Linked DNA regions of Homo sapiens: regions 1 and 2 are each linked to region 3. The links come from fine-mapping of genetic effects on plasma protein levels. Region 3 holds a variant in brackets. A gene starts in each other region. All regions are shown on their forward strands. Region 1 holds the start of MYL3 (myosin light chain 3). Region 2 holds the start of MYBPC1 (myosin binding protein C1). Region 3 overlaps CACNG1 (calcium voltage-gated channel auxiliary subunit gamma 1).

What was found. A credible set is the group of variants that fine-mapping cannot tell apart. PIP is the posterior inclusion probability: the model's chance that the variant is causal. Protein levels are from antibody-based Olink assays in UK Biobank. Linkage for the fine-mapping came from a reference panel and not from the study's own genotypes, which makes the PIPs less certain.
Region 1: MYL3 starts here. The variant in region 3 is the best candidate, but not a certain one, in a credible set for the plasma level of the MYL3 protein (UK Biobank, PIP 0.73).
Region 2: MYBPC1 starts here. The variant in region 3 is the best candidate, but not a certain one, in a credible set for the plasma level of the MYBPC1 protein (UK Biobank, PIP 0.60).

Annotation. Positions count from the first base shown.
Region 1 is chr3:46,859,509-46,867,687 of GRCh38, forward strand. MYL3 (myosin light chain 3) reads right to left here and starts at 3,936. Exons shown (of 7, transcript NM_000258.3): 1 at 3,754-3,936; 2 at 1,452-1,479; 3 at 1,168-1,317; 4 at 1-140. The coding sequence starts at 3,882. RefSeq lists an enhancer at 788-1,288.
Region 2 is chr12:101,590,591-101,598,769 of GRCh38, forward strand. MYBPC1 (myosin binding protein C1) reads left to right here and starts at 4,381. Exons shown (of 32, transcript NM_002465.4): 1 at 4,381-4,505. The coding sequence starts at 4,481. It overlaps LOC105369938 (a long non-coding RNA gene), which reads right to left. Exons shown (of 5, transcript XR_001749279.2): 5 at 7,964-8,179.
Region 3 is chr17:67,054,502-67,062,665 of GRCh38, forward strand. It overlaps CACNG1 (calcium voltage-gated channel auxiliary subunit gamma 1), which reads left to right. Exons shown (of 4, transcript NM_000727.4): 3 at 602-739; 4 at 1,544-2,296. The coding sequence ends at 1,770. Among named protein-coding and RNA genes, the nearest start is that of CACNG1, 14 kb to the left of the region's middle. The variant G/A (reference allele first, on the strand shown) is at 1,687.

The DNA.
Region 1 (8,179 bases), not on the chromosome of region 3:
CATGACAGTGCCATTGCCCTCCTTGTCGAAGACCCGCAGCCCCTCCACGAAGTCCTCATAGGTGCCTGTGTCCTTGTTCTTGGAAATGTGCTGGAGCATAGGCAGGAAAGTTTCAAAGTCCATCATCTTGGTATTGAGCTCTGCAGAGAAATGGTCCCAGGTTCCAGGGTCTAAGGCTGGGGTGGGCACACCCCTCCCCCATGCCTGATAATGAGGAGCTATCCCCACCTCTCACACAGTTCTACAACAGTCTACACCAGTTCTCACAGCAGTCTACACCAGTTTGCCATTTAAAAGCAAACTACCATCGCGAGGCACTTTACAGTCTACTGAGCAATGCACTGTTTCCATAGCCCTTTGCTATTCACAAAGGGAGTTTGCTGCCCTGAGCCACCACGGAGGGCTCTGTCCAGAACCCCTTGCCTACTTTTGGGAAACAGTCCTCCCCTCGTGGCATTTTCTTATAGACCTCACCCTCCACCACCTGTGATTGGGTCAGGAGCAGCTAGGCCAATCAGAGACCTTCCCTGGGACTTTTGAACCCTTGGTGGGGGCTTGGGCCTCACTCCTTTTTTTTTTTTTAGCTTTAAAATTTTATTCATTTATGTATTTATTCATTCATTTATTTATTTTTAGACACGAGGTCTTCTTGTTACGTCACACAGACTGGAGTACAGTGGTGTGATTATAGCTCACTGCAACCTCAAATTCCTGGGCTCACGGGATCCTCCTGGCTCAGCTTCCTGAGTAGCTGGGACCATAGGTGCATGTCACCATGCCAAGCTAAATTTTTAATTTTTGTAGAGATAGAATCTCACTATGTTACCCAGGCTGGTCTCACTCCTGGCCTCAAGTGATCCTCCCAAAGCATTGGGATGACAGCATCCCACTGCCCACTGCTGTCACTGCCCGACCTTCTCACTTCTCCATAGGTGTCAGCGCCTACCACCAGGGGGCCTGGCAAATCAGCATGGATCCAGATGCTCCAGCAAACCATTACTGCATGTCACCTGGTCGGCATGGCCCTGTGACTGGCCTCGGTGCCCTCATCGGGACAATGCGAGATGTCAGGAAAGATTCTCGTGCTATCCCGCAGGATGGATGGCAGCCCACCCAGCCAGTCTCCCCGGTACTAACACTATGGGGGCTCTCGGGCAGGTGCACTACCTTCCTGTCTTGGCTTCCCCAGGACACGGAGCACTTCTGCCTGTGTGGGGTTCTGGCCCAGCGCCCGCAGGACATCCCCACACTGCCCGTAGGTGATCTTCATCTCACACTTGGGTGTGCGGTCGAACAGCATGAAGGCTTCCTTGAACTCTGCCAGGAGAGGGCAGTGAGCCACAGACACTCCCAGGGTCAGCCTACCCCACTCCCCACACCCCTGGCAGGACCCTCAGACCAGGGAACCCCAGCCCAATCCTGCAACCCCTGGGTTCAAGACCCCTGCTCACCTTCAATCTGCTCAGGTGTGAACTCAATCTGAAAAGAGACCCCAAAGACTCAGATGCCCGGCTTAAAAGGTGGGGCCACACCTCCTCCTGGGCACTCGGTGGCCAGCCCAGAATGTCAACTGTCTCAGCCTGTCCCATTCCAGCATCCCAGCCTGCACCCCCAGGACCTCCTGCAGTCCATCTTGACGCCCTCCTGCCTCCTTGCCCCCCTCCACCTCTCCAGCCAGAAGGCCTTGAGGCTGTGTGCACCGAGGCCCTGATGCTCGGTGGACCCTGGCAGGGGTAGCAGTGAGGAGGGAGGCCACATGCCCAAGGCCTCAGGCCAGCGTGGGCCTTACCTGATGCTCCCGGTTCTGGACAGATGTACCTTAAGCCACAAGCCCCAGTCAGGCTGGCTTTGCTTGGGGCCTGGTGGGCAGGACTGTCAGCAAAAGTGAGATGGGAGGGCCCAGGGTGGTAGAAGGAGTAAGGGCAATGGTACAGGCCGAGGGCTGGTGGCTGGAAGCATCGAGGGTGAGCACAAGTGTGCATGTTTGTGTGTGAGCATGTGTCTACATACGTCTGCCCTCACAGAGCCCCCTAAGCCCTAAAGACCAGGCAGTCACTCACCAGCCCCACTATACCTATTTCTCACACACCCTGTCCGTAGGTCCCTGGGAAGCTCCCACACCCCAGGACAGCACAGGGCCAGGGCAGTGCTGCTGAGTGTTTGCTGAAGTCACATTGGGGCCACCTTGATTGACGTCAATCAAGAGGCCTCCCGGGATCCAGTGTCCCCCTCCTCACCGGATACCAGGTCTATTTTTATCACTGCAGTCACTCGCCCCAAGGTCAAGGTCACACAAGGGAAAGGAGGTTGGGGGAGGGGCATGACTGGCGTCTCTCTCATGGCTGCTGCCACGGAGCCCCACCAATCTCCACAGTGCATGCCGGCACAGAGGGACACCCTGTTCAGGGCCACCCTACCATGACTGTCCCTCCTGGCTTCTGGCTTGACCCAGTGTTGGGAAGAACAGGTTGTCATTCCTGGCTCCCTGAGAGCTCTCTCCACCAGGAAGCCTACTGAGATTAGGGTCTCTGGGCTCCTGGCAAAGGCTCCCTGCCCTTTACCTGCAACCTGGGGATGGGGGAAGAGGGCGCATGAGGGGTCTCATTGTCCCCACCTCTCAGAAGGAAGTCTGTGCCAACCTAAGGCCTGGCGAGAAAGGACAATGCCACTATGGGCCGTGGCTGTGGTCACAGCCTCACCATGAGGCCTGCAGAATGCAAGCCTGGGACCTGGGTGGCCAACTCCAGGTGCATATACTCTGAATGGTTCCCAGCAGCCCTGCAAGAGGGGACTTGCTGTTCTGTTTCACAGCTGAGGAAACCACGCCTCAGAGCAGCGAAGAACTTGGCAACTAAAATGGAGCAGAGTTGGGATTTGAACCCTTGCCTCAAAGGACATGGTAGGTGTCTCTGGGAAGGGCTCATGAACAGGAGGCAAGACTTCACCGATGGAATGTAGGTCCTGCTGGGCATGCAGGGATGGCGAGGGTTCCACAGGGCTCCTGAGGAGGCAGCCAGGGCAGCAGTGGTCCCAGCCAAGAACAGGGAGCAGGCAGGACACAGGGTACGTGCTGCTATGCAGATACCACAGGTGGGAGTCATGGCTCCCTCCAAGTTTAGACTCTGAGAAAGACTTTGCAGTTGGGGAAGGGCTCCTGGGGCCACTGGTCATAGCTCCATGACCAGCTTCCTGCACAGCTTTCAGAATGTCCCCAGCCAGCTGATGCTTCAAGTTCCCTACCTAAAAGCTGAGGCCTGGAAGTGCTCTACCAGCTCTGGGCTCGGTGATTTGAACGAGACCCAGCCTGGACAGGGGCCCTGCTTCTTCTTACTCCCTATCTCATCCACGCTGGGAGCGTGTATGGACTTGGGACCCCTCAGCTGAACAAGGAAAATCCCTGCCTGGCTCCAGCTGACTCCAGGATTCCCCAAGGATGAGAAGTCCAGGAAGAAGGGCAAGGGAGAGTCCATTTCCAAAACCACTAAAAAGACAGTCCAGACTCAAACCCCAGTCTAGACTCCACCTTAGTTCTCAGCAGCACCAGAGGAGTCCTGCAGAACGTCTGACCACCATCCCTCCTGCTGCAGCCCTTCTGATGCCTGAAGCAGTCAGGGCTTGTCTGACCTCTGCACAGAAGCTTCCAGCGTCAGCTCAGTGCTCACCTCCAGAGCCTGACCTGCCTCTTGCTAGGTCCACTCTGGGATCCACTCACTTGCCCTGCTCCTATTGCCACCACCCAGCTTCCATACCCACCTTGATCTTGGAAGCATCAAACTCGACCTCCTTAGGGCGCTCAGGCTCAGGGGGAGGTGCGGGAGCTGGAGCTGCCTTGGGGGCTGCCTTGGCATCATCCTTCTTGGGCTCTGGCTTTTTGGGGGCCATTGGGGGCTGTAAGTACAGAGAGGGATGTGGAGAGAAGAATGCAGAAAGCAGGGTAGGTGAGCCGCCTCACCCAGGCCTTTATCCTGCCCGGATACCTCATGACCCCAGCCCCACCCCTGCAGTGCACAATAGGGACAGGGCCATAAAAGGATATGGCTAGGCTTAGGGGCTATTTTGGGGCCTGGGGAGGGCATTGTTCAGGCTCAGGAATGGGTAGTGGAGGAGGGATCTCCATTCCTCCCAATCACCTGTTGGGAAGGGGGAGGGAGAGAGGGGGACAAAGGCCACTGCTTAACACACACATACACACATACACACACACTCATCTGCACACCCGCACATACCCACACAGGGCCCTGCTGCCTCTCTGCAGGTCCGTAAGTTGAAGAGGTGAAGAAGGGTGGACCAAGTACATGCTACGTGTTGTGTTGGGGCCAGAAGGACTGGGATGATCTAAGGGCACCTCTGAACTTAAGCTCTCCAAAGTCCCCTGTGTCTGTGTCTGTGTCTATGACCGTGTCCATGTGGGGGAAGGCGGAAGTCAGCATGTGTCTGTGTGTGTTGTCTGTGTCTGTGTCGGGGTGTCTATGTGTCTGTGGGTCTCTCTGTGTCTGTGTTTGTGTGGAGGGGGGTCTGTGTACACCTGTGTGTATTGTCTGGGTGCCTCCGTGGTGGGGGGCTCTGTGCGTGCCTATGTGTGCTCCGTATCTGTGTCTATGTAAGGGATGGCCCGGGTGTCTGCATTTGTCTCTGTGGGTCTGGGTCTTTATGTGTGCGTGGTGTGTCTATGTGTCTATGTGAGTGTGTCTGCGGGTGTTGCTTCTGTGTGTTTATGTCTGGGTGTTTACATGTGTCTGTATGTGAGTGTCTGGTCATGGCAGGCAGCTGTAGCCCTGGCTATGGGTCCAAGGGTCTCCAGGAACCCCCACAAAGGGCAAGAGAAAGGATGCTGCTCCCTCTAGGGCAGTCGCCCCAGGCCAGTTCAGCAGCCTCCCTCTTCAGCCCCTGCTGGCCCAGGGACCAGTTTCTCAGCTTTCACCCCTAGATTCCTACTTCCCCTCTCTACAGGCCCCAGGGATGCACATTTCCCTACACACCCCAGGCCTGGCTCCCCACTGCACCCTCTGCCCAGAGTGCCCTCGCCCCCTCTGCCTGACATATTCAAGGCTTGGCTCTACTGGCCCTCTTCCAGAAAGCTCTCTCCAATGCTATTCCACTGCCACATGTTGCCCTCTGCCGACCCTTTTGGCAGGGGCTCTGAGAGGGTCTGCCTCTCTGAGGAACCCCAAGCTGCCAAGCAGGGTCTGCCCCAGTGCAGTGATGCTCATTCCCTGTTCCTACCACTCAGTGCCCACCCCCAGTGCCCATCCTGCAGTGCCCGGCCCCCAGGGTCCATCCCAAGCCCAGCCTTCAGCAGATGACAGTGACAGAGTACAGCCTGACGGGACTGCCACTTGGGGAGGTGGGAGGGCTGAGGTGGCACAAGGCTCTTCCCGCATGGGGACGCCAACAGTGGGGACATCTTGTAAACACATTGGGCTCTGTTCCTTGCCCAGCATCTGTGCCTGGGGGGTGGGAAGGAGGTGCTCCTGGTTACTTTTAAGTGCCTGGAGCCTTTGATAGAAACTTCAAAGCCAGGGATTTCCCTGGTGTGGCAAGGGGCTAAGCCTGAGGCTGAGAGGTGCTGTGGGGCCCAGGGCCTCTACCTGGCACGCCCTGCTGTCTTCCTACTGGGCCCAGTCCCTCTCATCCTGTCACTCCGCCTCACAGGGAGGGACAGCAGTCCAGGGCTGGGGCCAGCCCGCTCCTGACTGGAACACGTTCTGCCTCTCATCTGGAGGGCAGAACACCCACATCTGGAAATCTGACAACATCCGGGACTGGCGGGGGGGCAAGTTTTTCACTTTTCTTCCAAATGTTTGGCAACAGTATTGAGAAAGAAAGGGGTGGGGGGATGGTCAGTGGAGACGAGCCAGAAATACCACAAGAGGAGAAGACAGCCAGAGGGCCACACAGAGGGGCCCCGGGGAGGCCCCACCACCCAGGCCTGCCGACCCTCAGGACAACGGGCTCTGGAAGTCACACGGGAGCCCCAGCCACCCACAGACACCGCCAACAAGACCAATTTCCTTGTGTTCATCATGAGGGAAGCAGAGGGCCAGAGCAGAGGACATATACAGGGCCCTCTCTCCCATCTCATTTCTTTCATCCTCACACAATTACCACCCCTTGGAAACCACCCAACGTTGGCCCAAATGGGGGTAAGCCAGTGACAAGAGCATCCTGGGCCTCAGTGTCCAGGTCTGTGATCTGGGATGGGCAGGCTCATGCAGCCAGCCAGAGCCACATAGTGCCACCTTCCTCCACCTGTGTGTGGCAGAGTCAAGGCAGTGGCTTGGGCCCCTCCTGTCACACACAGGGCAAACGTGGTCCTGCAGCAGGGACAGGGTGCACAGAGCCATCCTCACTCCCTCATCAGGACCCAGATGAAGGCTAGGGCCAGGATGGTGACTGCCTGAGCTCTGATTCTGGGCATGTCCCTGCTGGCTTGGGAACAACAGTGCCCCAGGACTCACCCACAGGCCCACCCTCAAACCTATAACAACTGCCTAGCCCCCAGTAGGCACTCTTCAGGACCAGCCAGAGCCCTCCCAGGCACACCGAGACCAGGAGCAAGGCATGGGGTGAACAGGAGGCAGGAAGGTGGGCAGGGAGTTGGGGGTGGAGGGAGGGAGGGTGGGCAGCAGTTGGCGGTAAGAACAGGCCACACCATGCCTGGCACTTCCCTCTCTCTCCCACATCCCAACCTGAGCTTTGTGCCCTTCAGGAGTCAGCCTAGCAGGCAGGATCTGGGCAGGGCCTCGGGGGCCTGGAGAGCCAGGGCTGGGGGTCTGGGTCCTACTGCTTCAGCTCCCAAAGCTCTGATGTCTGAGCTGCAGCCCAGTGTGCTGCAGGCTGGCACACGCCATGTCCCAGAGCCCTCTCAGGCAGCCACTTACCTCTCCCTTCCCCCAGCCAAGGAGAATGCGGGGAAGATATGGGCCCTGACTTCTGAGGAGCCTGTGGACTAAGGCAGGAAAGCCCGGCCACGCCGGCCTTCTTCTGGGCTCTTGTTACCTGGCGTCTTCCGTGTGTCCGCCTTCCTATGAATGTCAGCCATCACAGGAGGGAGGAATGTTCTGCTCTTCCACAGCTACATTTTCCCAGGACCTGGTACACCACAGGCATTCAATAAATGCTGGATGAACAAATGTTCCAAATATCTCAGTTTACCCACCTCTCACAGAGGTACTGGAACCCCTTGCTAAACCCTGTCCTGGAGTGGGCCCGGAGAGATGGGGAGATTTGCCAACTGACTGACAGGAGCTCTGGCGGTGCAGAGGGCACTCTGGGACAGTAGTGCGGCCAGCAGCTGCCTCCAAGCCCACCCACCACTTCCCCATGCCCACCCCAATTCAGGCGTGCTCTTCACAGACTAAAGAGGTGAGGGTGACCCCTGTGGTACAGGCAGTGACTGGACCACGATCAGCCAGCAGGGGGCGCAGAAGGGATGGGAACCGACCTTTGGTTCCTGAACTCAAACCCCAGAACCCAGAATCCCAACCCAGACCCCAGATCAGGAAACCGGAACCCCAAGCTCAGACCCCAGACTCAGGTCTCACAATTTGAGTGCCAAACTCAGAACCCAGAACCCAGATTCCAGGACTAGACCCCACTGTGGAGACCTAGACCCAGATCCTGGCACCCAAACCCTGACCAAAGACTCCAAGACCCAGGATGGTAAACCCGGACCTTCAACCCAGACTCCGGACCCCAGACCCCAGACACAGGAACCAGGATTCTAAACCCAGACCCCAGATCCAGGACTCAAGCCCCAGGACTCTAAACCCAGACTTCCAGGACTGCAAACCCAAACCCCAGACCCAGGACCCAGGACAAGGGCTGACGGATTTCCAGATCAGCGTGGCCCTGTGTGGACAAGGCCAGTGGGAAGGGGCACCGGGGGGTCACACTCTTGGCAACAGCGGGGGTAGCTGCTTGGCAGACCTCCCTGGTAGCGTTCAGAAGGGCATGAAGAATGTCCATCATCCTGTCAGAGCCAATTTGGGGAGCTCAGACTATGGTTGCCACGTGGAGGGTGGGCAGAAGGAGGTAAGGGCCAGCTGTCCCCTGGGCCTAAGAGCCAGAGGCAGGGAAACAGGGTCGGGCTCCCCACGTGCCCTTGTCCCCTGGGCCGCAGTCTCCGCAGGCAGCCATGGCCCGCCCTGGCCTGCCGGTCCCGCCCCTCCTGGCCCAC
Region 2 (8,179 bases), not on the chromosome of region 3:
AATGGGTGAGAACTGATTACTCATTGTTTGTTTCCATTTTCCTGAAAGTTTAAGCAATATATCGTATGTATTCATGGTTTCTATTTCTTCTGTAAATTGCTTTTTGAAATCTTCTACTCTACTTTTAAATTAATAATATTAACTCTATGATGGGTTTAAAATAACTTTTTCTCCTTTCCTTTTTTACTTTTTGATTTTATGGTGTCTTTGCTAGAGATAAAGAATTTTAATATTTTATTTACTCAAATCTGTTACCTTCTCTATAGCTTCTAGATTTTCTTACTTTAACACGTGTCTCCACTTATGAGAGTATTATTCAAACACTGTCATAATTGTTCTTCAAATATTTTTATTGTTTAATTTTTTAACTTAAAACTTTATTTCTTCTATAATTTGCTCTTCTTTATTGTGTGAATTAGAGGTTTAAAGTTGTTTATTCCCCACCCATCCACACCCGCCATGTGCCTCCAACTTACCAGAGAGACATACCACCACCAGTTTCTGTTATTTTACCATGATGCTGATTGCAGTATTAGTTATGGTGGTCAAACACTGAAAACAACCTGAATGCCCATCAAAAGGTATGTGATTGAGAAAATATGGCATACTACAGCACATCCATACCATGAACAATTATTTAGCTATTAAAAAAGATTGAGTTAGGTCTATGTATATTAACATGAATGAATGTCTGTGAGAGGAGGTTACATGGAAAAAGAAAGTGGAAAATAATGTAAATAGTATAATCCCATTCATTAAAAAATAGATGAAGAACTCTCTACATATGAATATATACATTTATACACGTATGTATGAGCACAAAGGAAAATTAGACCCTAATTCACACACTGGAATGAGGATGAGGTTGGGGAGAGAGTGAAATTCTTGAGATTGCTTATTTACTATTTATACTTCTCCATATTCTTTGGTTAACGCGGAGAACACTATTGCTTTTATTTTGAAAGGTGAGAGATTGATACTTGCCTATCTGACATCCATTCTCCTTGGTCTCTTTAATAACAGAATTCCAATTTTACCTGAGAATAAGACTACATTTCCCAGCTCCTTTTGTAGTCAGATATAGCCATGTAACCAAGTTCTGGCCTGTGGGATGTAGTAGATGTGTGTGGGACTTCAAACAAGTCTCTTTAAAATGAAGAAAGTGACTTCTTCCTCTTCCTCTTCTCCTTCTCCTTCTCCTTCTCCTTCTCCTTCTCCTTCTCCTTCTCCTTCTCCTTCTCCTTCTCCTTCTCCTTCTTCTTCTTCTTCTTCTTCTTCTTCTTCTTCTTCTTCTTCTTCTTCTTCTTCTTTTCAGCTGCCTGGAATAGGAATGTAGTGTCTAGAAGATACACAGCTATTTTGGACCATGAGGTTACCAGGAGGATGGTAGAGCAAGAAGGAGGAGTCTGGTTTCCTGGATACACTGTGAAGCCACTGTATGACTCTAAGCCATTTGCTTTTAGACTTGCTTTATATGAGGGAGAAATACTTCTATCTTGATTCAACTGTTGGTATTTTGTAGTTTTGTGTTGTATTTGAACAAACTTCATCCTCAATAATACAAAAGGAAAAATCTAATACAGCATTTAGCAAAAGAAACAAAAGCCTGTTGACCATCCCCCTGTCTTTCCTGAGAGTACAGCTAAGGCATCTGCAACCTTCTAGATGAATGCATAAGATCTGAAATAGGAGTTATGTATTCCTAAAACAATATAGCCCTAGGAAAATTACACAAGTCTACTTGTTATCCTAATTTAAAATTTTACCTTAACCACCTGATACACTGTACAATAATTTGTCCTAGAATTTGTCCATACTTCCAATTCCTATAATAATGCTTTGCCTTTTTATAATTAATTCCTTTATTACCAAAAAGTTCCCCAGGTCATAAAATACTTTCTCTGTGGATTGCAATATTTCCTGGCATATGTTCACTTCAGTAAGACGATCAGTGTATTAAAAACCCAATGGGGTTTCTGCAGAAGCCAATGATGGCATGGCACCTCTTTTGTGGCATGTGTGAAATCTGCCCTTCGCTGTAAACATTCTTATGCAACATGACACTCTGCCCTATGTCCATTTCATATGTGGTGTTCAGTGTGCTGGGAATGCTGAAAAAAACAATTCTCTCTTAGAGATTTCCCAAGTAGAATCACAGTGTTAAACCTATCAGCAGCCTCCAAGATCATTTTTTTTAAGCCCCTCATTTTACACAAAAAGAAACTGAGGCCCAGAAAGCCCCCTGACTTTCTCAGAGTAACTAAGCTGGTTAATGATAGATCCAGAAATAGAACCCAAGGGACCAACTTCAGATTCTAGGTTCTTTCATATGTTTCATCTATTAATTGATATCCCCAGAGCGGACTCAGCAAAGGAACGTTTTTTTTTTTTAAAGTACAAAAATGTGTTCAGTAGTATAATGTGGTTAAGGAGGGGCTGTCTTTATAAAAGATGTTCATTACCATCTTGACTGGCTTCCTCCCCCTCCCCGCCACATAACTAAAGCATGATGCTATTGAGTTCTAAGTCTAGTTTCCACCCTTATATGAAAAGTCAGCTTGGCACAGAGTTTGGTAGAGCTAAGTCTGACCAGCTGCACTCTCAGCCACAAGGGAAATTAGACGAGACAGTGTGGCTGCTTCAGTACCAATCAATCAAAGTTTTTGAAAATTATCTTGAAAACACACACCAATAAAGGCATGTGTGTAGTTGTCTTTTCATATAAACTCAGGTTAGTCCTAGTGCATGTGAACAAAGAAAGTAAGGTGTCTTCTTCAGGTTGACTACTTGGTAGTTCCTATTTCTCTATCAGTTCCATGAGCGTTTTGGGAGAAAGTGACCACATCTACTACAGTCTTTCAACATCTTAAGTTAGATTTGTGTACCCTCCAATTGAATCACTTGAATCAAAACAATAGCTACTAGTCTATTTGACTTTCTTTGCCCAGGCCCCATATATATCTTTTTATTTTATTTTTATTTTTTGTAGAGACAGGGTCTTGGTTTGTTACCCAGGCTGGTCTCCAACTCCTGGCTTCAAGTGATCTTCCCACCTTGGCCTCCCAAAATGCTGGGATTATAGGCCCCAGCACTGCACCCAGCCTCCATATATATTTTTAAGTGTATAATCCAGTGGTTTTTAATATATTCACAAAGTTGTACAACCATCACCACTATCTAATGCCAGAACATTTTCATCATGACCAAAAGAAACCCCATATGCACTGGCAGTCACTCCCAATTCCACCTCCCTTAGGCCACTGGCAAACACTGATATACTTTCTCACCATATGGATTTGCCTGTCCTAGATATTTCATATAAGTGGAATTGTACAATGTGTGTTCTATTATTTTTTATTATTATTATTATTAATTTGAGATGGAGTTTCGCTCTTGTTGCATAGGCTGGAGTGCAATGGTACAATCTCGGCTCACCACAACCTCCGCCTCCTGGGTTCAAGTGATTCTCCTGTCTCAGCCTCCCGAGTAGCTGGGATTACAGGCATGCACCACCATGCCCAGCTAATTTTGTATTTTTAGTAGAGACGGGGTTTCTTTATGTTGTTCAGGCTGGTCTCGAACTCCTGACCTCAGGAGATCCACCCCCCTCAGCCTCCCAAAGTGCTGGGATTGCAGGCATGAGCCCAGCAGTGATCTATTATTTTATAGTCTACGTTTGTATGTCTGACTGACTTCTTTCACTTAGTGTAATGTTCTCAAGCTTCATCCACGTTGTAGCATGTGTCATTGCCTCATTCTTTTATATGTCCTATAATTTTGAAAAATGATGTTTTTGGAAAAAAATGCAAACGCAGAGTATCCCCTAATAGAAATCTTTGCTATTCTTAGAGAAGAACATGAGACAAGTTATTTAACCTAGAGATTTGGCTTGAAAAATTAATATTGACATATCAATGAGGAATAAGAAAAAATATAAATGCAATAATTAAGGACTGATGAAAATGAAAAGCTAATTGGAGCATAAAAGTGATCATCTGAATACAAAGACTTTTCTGCCTAATCTTAGTGAAAATTAAGGTATAGGTTGGATTGGCATATTATGATTTTTAATTTGTTTTTTTAATCATCCAGCAAACTTTTTGCACTCCTGAGTCAGCACATGCATCTGTCAGAGAGAGAAGAGCAAGACGGAGCACGAGGCTGCAGCTGAATTTAGAAAGTTAGAGGTGTTCTCATCAGCCACATGAGATGGGCAGGAGATTCCTTCCAGTAGGCGAGAGAGCAGAGTGCAGACAACAGATGTGAGAAAGGTCCCCATAGCTGTCAAGTTCCTGCATCCTTGTGCTGAAGAAAGGGAGGTGCCATCATGATTGATGTTCAGAGGCAGTATAAAAGCACTGGGTTTCTCCCCAACTGCTTGTCACACCGACCTGCACCATCTCTCGCCTGCCTGTGGGGTTTCTGTCAACTAGTCGTGGAGGGAAGGAGACTCTTTAAAGAATAACATCTTATTGTGGCCATGCCAGAACCCACTAAGAAAGAGGGTAAGACTTATCTAGAAATCTTTTTGTTGTACTCCTGAATAAAGTGTTTATTTTGGTATTTATCTTCAAACAAATAACAAATATCTTAACTAGATGAGAAAATAAAATCACTATGATTTAAGGAAACGATCTTTTAGATTAAACAGACCAGAGGAAAAATACAGCGAGAGTATATTGAATTGAAAAATTTCTGATAACGATAGTTTCTAAAGGGATATTGACTAAAATTATCAAATGATAATTCTATCATTCAATTGTAAAGAATCCTTAAAGTGTAATTTAAGGATGTTAATTGCTGATGGTAAACAGATTACGTTTTCAAGCATATTTTCTTAGATTTAATCACAAATTTTTTACCATGTATTTGCAATTTGCAGAGAGTAGGAGACTTAAAATATTTTCTCAAATGGTTAATACATTGGATCAAGATTTCAAAAAAGAATTTGTGACATTATTTCCATATTTGCTACTTTTTTTAATGGAAACATATTTAAAATATACAGACGAAGGGTTTTTTTTGTTCTTATCAGTGCCTTTGGAGGTTCGTTATTAAATTCTTGCATGGAAAGAAAACCAAACACCTGATAAAAAAGGATGTCCCTGAATATCATGAATAGATTGTTCTTTCATGAGTTTTATTGTAGAGAATTTCATAATATGTAGTAGGCTTTAAGAATAGTTAAGCTGAAAGTATAAAAATATTCTTCCTTAGAAGAAATGTTTTCCCTAACAAAGTTTCTCCTTTCTATAAAAAAATTAGTGTATTAAAGCTACCAATTGGTAACAGAAGTAAATTGGAATTAGTAGTTATGAAAATAAATAATAATAAGCACAAATTAATACTATGCATGCATTGAATTTAATTTTTAATTAAAATATCTTTTAAAAATATTATTTCATTTATATTCATCTTCATTAATGCTTACTGAATCTTTATTTTTCCCTTCTGCAAATAAAAGAAAAAGAAAGATTAGCAGGAAACATAAAAATAGTCATAGTTTTCAGTTTTTAATTCTTAAAAATGCTTTAGCTATTATTTTAAGGAACCTTGAAAAAGATGTTGAAATACTAACCAAATTATCAAAAGTCTTTTAAACATATTTTCTTTATATAATTAAGTAACCAGTGTTGACAGGCTGTGGTGATCAGTTTACAGGTTGGCCTTACTTAGTGGCAGAGGGCATTGATGGATGAAGTCTTTCACCCAAAATAACCACACCAAATGCATGTATTAATATGGGAACTTAATCCTGACTGTCAGGCAGGGAGTCCAACCCCTGCTAAAGTATCTTATTTGTAATGCAAATGATTTACGTGTGTACTAAGTGTCCTTTTTATCTGCTCTGTCACTTTAACCTCTCCGAAGTGTACCCAGAAGCAATACATTCTACCATGTTTCCAAACTGGAAACACAATATTGTTTTAATTATTCTGAATTTAGTGAATGATTTTGCATTTGTTTTTTTAAAGCCTAATTGAAAATGAGAAGAAAGCTGAAAAACCAATAAATAAGGTGACAGCCTGTAAGAGCCAATAAAGCTAATTAAATTATTCTGATCGCAAAGGCGATGAAGTTTACTTTTCATTTGACAACTCAGTCTGATTCACTCTTTTATGGGGAATGAAATTATAGAGCTGCAAAGAGGAAAATATATCTTTAACTTCAGCCCCCACCCCCCCAATATATATTTTTTTCTTTCTGAATAAAACAGCATGGATGCTAAAGACTCCATCATCTTCTTTTGCTATAAAAGCATGTTGCTATTCTGTGTAGGAGTTCCTCCACCCAGGACAGTAATTTTATACCCATAAATTCTTTGGTTAGTGTAAATTTGGATGATGGGGATTGGGGCAAGAAGAGTTACTGATATATTTAAAATCCATTGAGGAAGTACAGAGATTTTTTTGGTTCCCTTACCAGCAGAACTGATTCTTAAAGGAACTGTACCTTGAAAAGCTTTCCTTAGTGAAATAATTGCATTTTAATATTGTTTACATTAGAAGAGTAAGGAGTACGGCAATTCATGAACTATTCTGGTCCTTTCTTCTTCTCCTAACTGTGATTTCATTTTCACTGGGGTTAGTTTGATTGCATATAAGCCTCCCTCTGAAAAATAAAACATGGCCTAGAGCCAGTTCTTCAGAATCATTTCAAAATACCTGCAGAAACCCTCCCAAAGAACAGGCTCCTCCAGCCCATATGGGTCTTCTGAACTCTTCCCCACAGCTCGTAAAGCCATGCCCAGGAAGGCCATGACCACTTGCTGTGAATCTTAATAGGACACATGAGCTGGTTTGGCCCTCCTAGGATCCAGGAGGATCTGGCAACTCCTCAAAAGAGGCTGAGTTTTCAGCACCTGAAGGTACAAAAAATGTCTCACTCAACTACTTCCCAGCCTACCGTGGCCTAATTCTGGGAGTTTTCTTCTTAGATCTTGGGAGAGCTGGTTCTTCTAAGGAGAAGGAGGAAGGACAGATGTAACTTTGGATCTCGAAGAGGAAGTCTAATGGAAGTAATTAGTCAACGGTCCTTGTTTAGACTCTTGGAATATGCTGGGTGGCTCAGTGAGCCCTTTTGGAGAAAGCAAGTATTATTCTTAAGGAGTAACCACTTCCCATTGTTCTACTTTCTACCATCATCAATTGTATATTATGTATTCTTTGGAGAACTATGTTATTTGTACTGTCTATTCCAGATAAAACTTACCTTACACCACTTTGGATTCTTACAGAACCTAAGGCCTAGTACAATTAAGTTATTCCGATCAAATTGGGAGGATGTTGTAGGCAGTTTCAGATTTGTGGGGATCTCCCAGGATGCCTTTGATACATTCATTTATATATCAATTATTAATTGAGTACAAGTAAGTGCCCGAAAGTTAATTGCCCCCGGTTCCTACTGTGTAAAGAAATCACCTTTCTTTTTTTTTTTTTTTTTTTTTAAGACAGTATCTCACTCTGTGGCCCAGGCTGGAGTGCAGTGCCACAGTCTCCGCTCACTGCAGCCTTTGCCTCCCAGGTTCAAGTGATTCTTGTGCCTCAGTATCTCAAGTAGCTGGGATTACAGGTGCCCACCAACACGCCCAGCTAATTTTTGTATTTTTAGTAGAGACGAGGTTTCGCCATGTTGGCCAGGCTGGTCTCGAACCGCTGACCTCAGGTGGTCCACCTGCCTCTGCCTCCCAGAGTGCTGGGATTACAGGCATGAGCCACTGTGCCCGGCCAAGAAATCACCTTTCACTGGAAATTTCTCTTTTCCAGTCAAAAAGAAATTTTATCAACCTCAAACTAGACAATTGCAATAGCCTTTCTTCCGTGGCAGAATCTCTGTTCATTAAAGAATAGTATGAATGGCTGTTAAACCCATAAAAATGATTTCCTCAGAATTTTACCTCTGGAATATGTAATGATTAAAACCATAAAGCCTGATTCTTTAACATCCTGCGACAACTGTTAACTGGATTCCTTTAATTTTTTATTTATTTTTTATCTTTTTGAGAAAAGGTCTCATTCTGTCACCCAGGCTGGAATGCAGTGGTGCAATCATGGCTCACTGCAAACTCTGCCTCCCAGGCTCAAGCAATCCTCCCACCTCAGCCTCCCCGGTAGCTAGGACCACAGATGCATGCCATCATGCCCAGCTAATAGCTGATTTTGTTATTTTTAGTAGAGAT
Region 3 (8,164 bases):
TTTCAGGATCCGCAGAGCTCAGACGCACACCCATTGTCGGGAGTACAGACCCGTGCCTGCCTGCGCCCAGACAGCTGCACACAGGGTGAGTGGGCAGACACACAGACACACACTGACACACACAGACACACACAACACAGATACACACACACGACACACACAAGACACAGACGCACAGAGACACTGACACACACGCATGATGACACACAAAATGACACACAGTGACACAGACACACACTGATACACATGCATGATGACACACAAAATGACACACAGTGACACACACAGACACACACTGACACACACGTACAATGACACAGACACAGAGACACACACTGACACACACGTACAATGACAGACACAGAGACACACACTGACACATATGCATGACACACAATGACACACACAGACACTGACACACACACAGATACACACATACAATGACACACACAAGACAGACACAGAGACACACACTTGACACACACACAATGACACACACAGACACTGACACACACACTGTGGTGCATGGTGTGGTCCCTAACGAGCCATGACAAGAGCTCCCATGCTGAGGCCGCATGCTGGGTGTCCCTTGTGTTTGCAGAGTACAGCATCTCGGCAGCCGCCATCGCCATCTTCAGCCTTGGCTTCATCATCCTGGGCAGCCTCTGTGTCCTCCTGTCCCTCGGGAAGAAGAGGGACTATCTGCTGCGACCCGCGTCCATGTTCTATGCCTTTGCAGGTAGACTGGGGGATCTGCCTGAGCGCCGGGGCCGGGGGACCATGTCGCGGGGGATTCTCCGCTCCACCCTCATGCCCACCGCGAGATTTGGGTGAGGGGCATTTCCCAGGCTCCATCCCCATCCAGGGGCAAACCTGGCCAGGCCATCAGCGACTCCAGGTGGGTTGGAGGGAGACAGAGCTTGGCGGTTTGTCCATTCCTCTCCACGACTCAACCCTCAAGGCCCCAAAGAAACTGCCCAGAGAATGATTAACAAAAGAAGGAAAGAAACGTGGTCACCTTTCTTTCTTTTTCTTGGGGGATGAGGAAGAGGGTCTCGCTCTGTCATCCAGGCTGGAGTGCAGTGGCACAATCACAGCTCACTGCAGCCTCGAACTCCTGGGTTCAAGGGTTCCTCCCGCCCCAGCCTCCTAGTAGCTGGGACTACAGACGTGCACCACCACACCTGGCTAATTTTTCATTGTATTTTAATTTTTTGTAGAGACGGAGGGCTCATCACTATGTTGCCAGGCTGGTCTCAAACTCCTGGCCTCAAGCGATCCTCCTGCCTCAGCCTCCCAAAGTGCTGGGATTACAGGTGTGAGCCACCACACCTGGCCACATGGTTGCCCTTCTGAGGGATGCAGGAATAGGGTGGTGGGTGGACAAATGGATCCTTCTGCAGGTTCCCATCTAGAACCTGCCTTGAGGCAGCTTTTCCCCCAAGGCAAGGTCACCGCCTCCTCCATGCACACAGGCTGGGATGGGGCTGGTGGCTACGGCAGACGCCCCTCGGTCCCTGAGCATGCCTGGCTCTGCCCCCAGGTCTCTGCATCCTCGTCTCGGTGGAGGTCATGCGGCAGTCGGTGAAGCGCATGATTGACAGTGAGGACACCGTCTGGATCGAGTACTATTACTCCTGGTCCTTTGCCTGCGCCTGTGCCGCCTTCATCCTCCTCTTTCTCGGC[G/A]GTCTCGCCCTCCTGCTGTTCTCCCTGCCTCGAATGCCCCGGAACCCATGGGAGTCCTGCATGGATGCTGAGCCCGAGCACTAACCCTCCTGCGGCCCTAGCGACCCTCAGGCTTCTTCCCCAGGAAGCGGGGTCTTGGCCTGGAACCTTCCAGAGAGGAGGCGGGAGCAATTTTAGCCCCACCCTGCTCCCATCTGCCCCCCTGCAACAGTCGCAGGCTGCTTCCTCTCTCTGAGTTCCTCTGGGCTGCCGCAGGCTCCCCTGGGAATAGAGCAAGACGTGAGTCCTAACCTGGCCACAGTTGGGGGAGGCAGAGCCAGCAGGTGGACAGGTGTTTGCAGGGGCCCAACTTCCCCTGGAGCTCAGAGGTGTCCCCACTGTACCAGCCTCTGATAAGCTGCCTCCAGTTGTCCTTTATGAACATTGCAGGGACAACCTGTGTTTGCCAGCTGGGTGTTCCGTGTAAATAGCCAGCCTGTCTCTTTCTCGGTGATAAAACACACCCTCTCTGGTGAGCCCAGCGTCCCCTCCTTGGCTTCCAGGAGCCCTGGGAAGCATTTTTAACTGGGTAGAATCTGACTGTGGCTTGAAATAAAAAGCTCTCAGAAAACTCATGCTTTCCTGGAGCCTTGCATAGAAATCGCTCGGATTCCCAGTCACATCAGGGGCTCCCCTGACGCCGAATGAGAAGGAAAGGCCGGTCACCCGGGTATGTTGAGGTCTTTTGTGGGGACAAGAGGGCAACGCACGTGGCTTAGAGGCTCTGAATTCCAACTCGTATCTCTAGGCCCTGAGATTGTTTTCGGGAGAAACTAGAAACCCTCTGATGAAGCAAGGGTGTTAAAAATAGGAGGGGTTATTTCTAGAGCCTGGCATGCAACGCACCTGGTGCCAACACAGCGCTAAAGCAGCCAGCCAGTGTCTGATTTCTGATGTTGGATTTTTCTTGTGAAGAACATCAGGAAGCAGGGCTTAGCAGTTAGACACTTAGGGCCACATGGAGAGCCATGATTTGCACTCTTCTGCCTTCCAAAACCCCGCAGTACTTGCCCAGGCTTCCAAAGTGGAGTTCAGACATGATCGGCAGATGGGATCCTTGCCTTGCACCCCGGAGAACCCACTGGAGTTCACGCTTCTAGGGCAGGGTTTGGCAAACTATGGCCCATAGGCCACACCTGGCCTGCCCCCTCTTGCTGTATGGCCCACAAGCAAAAGGTAGTTTTTACAGTTTTAAATTGTTAAAAAAATAAATAAAATTTTTTTTTTTTAAAAAAGGCCAAGCGTGGTGGCTCACGCCTGTAATCCCAACACTTTGGGAGGCCAACATAGGTGGATCACAAGGTCAGGAGTTCAAGACTAGCCTGGGCAAGATGATGAAACCCCATCTCTATTAAAAACACAAAAAATTAGCCGGGCATGGTGGCATGTGCCTGTAATCCCAGCTACTCGGCAGGCTGAGGCAGGAGAACTGCTTGAACCCGGGAGGCAGAGGTTGCAATGAGCCGAGATCACGCCATTGCACTCCAGCCTGGGCGACAGAGTGAGACTCCATCTCAAAAAACAAAACAAAACAAAAAAACCCCCAAAACAATCAAGGAACTGGGCATCACGGCTCACACCTGTAATTTCAGTAATTTGGAAGGCTGAGGCAAGAAGATTGTTTGAGGCCAGGAGTTTGAGACCACCCTGGGCAACACAGCAAGACTCCATCTCTATAAAAAATAAAAATAAAATAATTTACAGATAAAAAGAAGAAGAATATCTCATGACACATGAAAATGATAAGAAATTCACATCTCAATGTCTGTAAATAAAGTTAGATTAACACCAAGCCACGCCCATTCTATGGCTGCTTTCGTCACCATTGAGTAGTTTCAACAGAGATCTTCCATCCCGCAATGCTGAAAATATTTACTATCTGACCCTGTATGAAAAATGTGTGATTACGCCTGTTCTGGAGGAAAACTACAACCATCAGCCCCCATATCAACCTCTTACTGGTCCCATCTAAAAGCTGAGGGGAAGTTCATTATTTCAGTTCGCCTGCGGTATCTCGGGGGTGTGGGCTGGGCTAGGAGGGGTGTCAGAGGAGACTCACTCAAAGACGCAAAGATCCAGCCAGGAAACAAACTTGCTCCAGGTAAAGGAGAATCAGAAGATGACTGTCCTGGCCAGCCAGGGAGCTGGGGCCATGATTTATGAGTAAGAAGGAAGAGCGATAACTTCATCCCATTGATAACCATTTTGGAGGTTGATATTATTGGTGTTTTTCTTTTTTTCTTTTTTGAGACAGGGTCTCACGTTGGAGTACAGTGCCCAGGCTGGAGTACAGTGGCACAATCACAGCTCACTATAGCCTCGAGTTCCTGGGCTCAAGTGATCCTCCTACCTCAGCCTCCCAAGTAGTAGGGACTGCAAGCGTGCGCAGACCACACCCAGCTAATTTTTTTTTGTTTTTTGTTGAGACAGGGTTTTGATATGTTGCCCAGGCTGGTCTCTAACTCCTGGGCTCAAGCGATCCGCTAGCCTTGGCCTCCCAAATTGCTGGGATTACGGGCATGAGCCACCACACCCAGCCTTTTTTTTTTTTTTTTTTTAACAGATCGGAGTCTTGCTATGCTGCCCAGGCTGGCCTCAAACTTCTGGGCTCCAGATGTCCTCCTGCCTCAGTCTCTGGAGTAGCTGGGATTACAGGTGTGAGCCACCATGCCTGGCTCCAATATTATTCTTTTATTACTATTTTTACTTTTAGCAGAATCAGACTGGCATGCATTTTTTCTTTTCTTTTCTTTTTTCTTTTTTTTTTTTTTTCTTTAGATGGTGTCTTGCTCTGTCACCCAGGCTGGAGTGCAGTGGTGTGATCTCAGCTCACTGCAACCTCCGCCTCCCGGGTTCAAGCAATGCTCCTGCCTTAGCCTCCCGAGTAGCTGGGATTACAAGTGCCGGCCACCACACCCAGCTAATTTATTTTTGGTAGAGACGGGGTTTCACCATGTTGGCCAGGATGGTCTCGAACTCCTGACCTCAGGTGATCCACCTGCCTCAGCCTCCCAGAGTGCTGGGATTACAGGCGTGAGCCACCATGCCCGGGGCCTTGGCATGCATTTTCTACTTCCCCATGGATGCCTATGGGTCGGTCCCCCCAAAACACATCTGAATGGAATATCCACCAAACAGAATACATTCGGCTTCCCAGGCTTTTAACTCTTCCAAGATATACTTCAGCACAGCCAGAACTGCGATACAAACCAAAGGGTTGGAGGCTGGCCGCCAGAGAGCCACACATCCTGGCATCTGCCCCAGAAAGAGGCAACGCAGCAAAGCAAAATAAAGTTGACCAAACCAATGAGGGAAAACGTCTTACTCCCCACCCGCCAAATGCTGCTTGCCAGAAGGATGTCCACAGGGGAAAATGGTTGGCTTTGCCAGGGACTGAAGGCCTCACTTCAGGGTCCATGCAGGCCCTGCTCTGAAGGCCACCCAGAGCCCAACCACAGAACAAACAGTGCCATCTGCCCTGAAGCCTTGGTTGGCCTCAGAAGCTACTGGCTTCTCATTCCTTGCTGTGGGAACTGTGTGTTTTTTTGTTTTTTTTTTTTGAGACAGAGTCTTGCTCTGTTGCCCAGGCTGGAGTGCAGTGGCATGATCTCAGCTCACTGCAACCTCCGCCTCCCAGATTCAAGCGATTCTTCTGCCTCAGCCTCCTGAGTAGCTGGGACTACAGGCGCCCACCACCACACCTGGCTAATTTTTGTACTTTTAGTAGAGACGGGGTTTCGCCATGTTGGCCAGGCTGGTCTCGAACTCCTGACCTCGGGTGATCCGACCACCTCGCCTCCTGGAACTATGTGACTTTGACCCACAGCACACCTTGATGTCCTGTCACACTTGCAATTTCTCAGCGTTTTTTGTTTTTTTATTAATTTTATTATTATTATTATTGAGACAGAGTCTTACTTGCTGCCCAGGCTGGAGTGCAGTGGTGCGACTTCAGCTCACTGCAGCCTTGACCTCCTGGGCTCAAGCGATCCTCCTGTCTCAGCCTCCCGAGTGGCTGGGACCACAGGCACGTGCCACCACACCCGGCTAATTTCTGCAATTTTTTTTTAGAGACAGGGTTTCGCCATGTTGCCCAGGCTTTCTCAGCGTTTTTACATCCATCATCTTCCGTGAGGCAAAGAAGGCAGCAGAGGCAGGACCAGCAACTAGTTCATCAAGATCCAGACTTAAGTGTGATTTTTTAAGAACTGTGGTAAAATACACATAACGTAAAATTACCATCTTAATCACATTTTCGTGTAGAGTTCAATCACGTTAAATACACTCGCATTGTTGTGCAACTCTGAACACCGTGCATCTCCAGAACTCTTCGTCATCCCAAACTGAAACTCACAAGCACTAACTCTGCGTCCTCTCCTTCCCACAGCCACTCTTCCACTTTCTGTCTCTGGGAGTTTGACTCCTCTAGGTACCTCGGGATCAGCGGAATCATGGAGTATTGGTCCTTTTGTGACGGGCTCATTTCCCTCGACTGCTAATGCCTTTAAGGTTCATTTGCACGGTACCAGGTATCAGAACTCCCTTCCTTTTTCAGGCTCAGCAATATCCCACTCTACGTATTCCCATATTTTGTTTATCCACTCATCCACTGATGGACGCTGGGTTGTTTCCAACTCTTGGCTCTTGTGATTTACTGCTGCTATCAACACGGGTTCATGCTCTGCTTCAGGCCCTGCTTTTGGTTGTTTTGGATGCACTGACTGGGACATTTTTAAAAAATTAAAATTAATGCAAAATCTCCACAATTAACACCATATCAAAACTATTAAGTAGGTGCAAACGTAATTGCAGTTTTTGCCATTGAGAGGAATGGCAAAAACTGGGCAGATGTGGTGGCTCATGCCTGTAATCCCAGCACTTTGGGAGGCAGAGGCGGGTGGATCACTTGCGGTCTGGAGTTCAAGACCAGCCTGGCCAACATGGTGAAATCCTGTCTCTACTAAAAATACAAAAAAAAAAAAAAAAACAGCCAGGCGAGGTGGTGGGCACCTGTAATCCCAACTACTTCAGAGGCTGAGGCAGGAGACTCGCTGGAACCTGTGAGGCGGAGGTTGCAGTGGGCCAAGATCCTGCCACTGCACTCCAGCCTGGGTGATGGAGCAAGACTCCATCTCAAAAAAAAAAAAAAAAAGTAATGGCAAAAACTGCAATTATGTTTGCACCAACCTAAATTAGAACCAAGGCTGCTGTTTTCCCACCTGTCTGATGAGGGCCCTTACCAATCCTCACTTGGCCTCTGCCCAGGTTCCTGGGAGAACCAAGAGATGGCTCCCTCTCTCTCTGGCCAGCACACGGTAGGACCTGCTCCAGTGGCTTGGTGCTTAGTTCCTCCTTAAACTGAAAATTTCAAGGATCTCTGTGTACCTCTATTTTTTTTTTCTGGCTGTGCCGGTAAAGACGGATTTTAATCACAGCCTATCGCAATATTTCCCCTGCCAGTGTGACTTGTTCCATTTTGACCAAATATTTTATTTACAAATCCATTTCTAATTTATACCCTGCCCACTTTCAGAAATGATTAGAAGTGGAGACAAGGTATTAATAAACCTATGATGTGGAACATATCTATTAAACCAATGATTGGTATTCAGGCTGGGATGCAGCTGCCCCTGGCTTCCCCAAGCCTTCATTTCTCAGTCTCACTCAATTGCAACCACTGAGGCCATAAATTAATCCCCACACAAGGCATTGATCCTGCACATTGGAGAAAGTTAATTAAGGTCATTGCCATTACAAGCAGCGATACTTTCTATTCTTTTGGCTTTGCTTCTGACAAGAATTTTTGCCTAAATGTGAAAGCCTGGACTTTTTGGAAATTTTCGTCATTTAGGGGATATGACTTTCATACACAGCTAGCCCTACCTTACTGCTACATTATTATTATTATTATTATTATTATTATTATTATTATTAGAGACAGAGTCTTGTTCTGTCGCCCAGGCTGGAGTGCAATGGCGCAATCTCGGCTCATTGCAATCTCCGCCTCCTGGGCTCAAGCAATTCTGCCTCAGCCTCCCAAGTAGCTGTGACTACAGGCACGCACCACCACACCCGGCTAGTTTTTGTACTTTTTGTAGAGACGGGGTTTCACTATGTTAGCCAGGCTGGTCTGGAACTCCTGACCTCAAGTGATCCACCTCGGCCTCCCAAAGTGCTGGGATTATAGGTGTGAGCCACCGTGCCCAGCCTTGTACTTTTGACCTCTGCTTCCTTCAAAAAATTCTCCAAATTTTCCCCCGAATATTTCCGTTGTCCAATGTTTGTGCTTCTACCACCTGCCCTTTAAACTTTGGTGTTTTCTGCCAGGTCTCATCTCACATCACAATTTCTAGGAAATCCCATTCATCTCCAGGACATCGGTTACCTGTGACCATCATAAGCCCCTGCCAATCTCTCATTCAGGTATCAGACCCGGTGT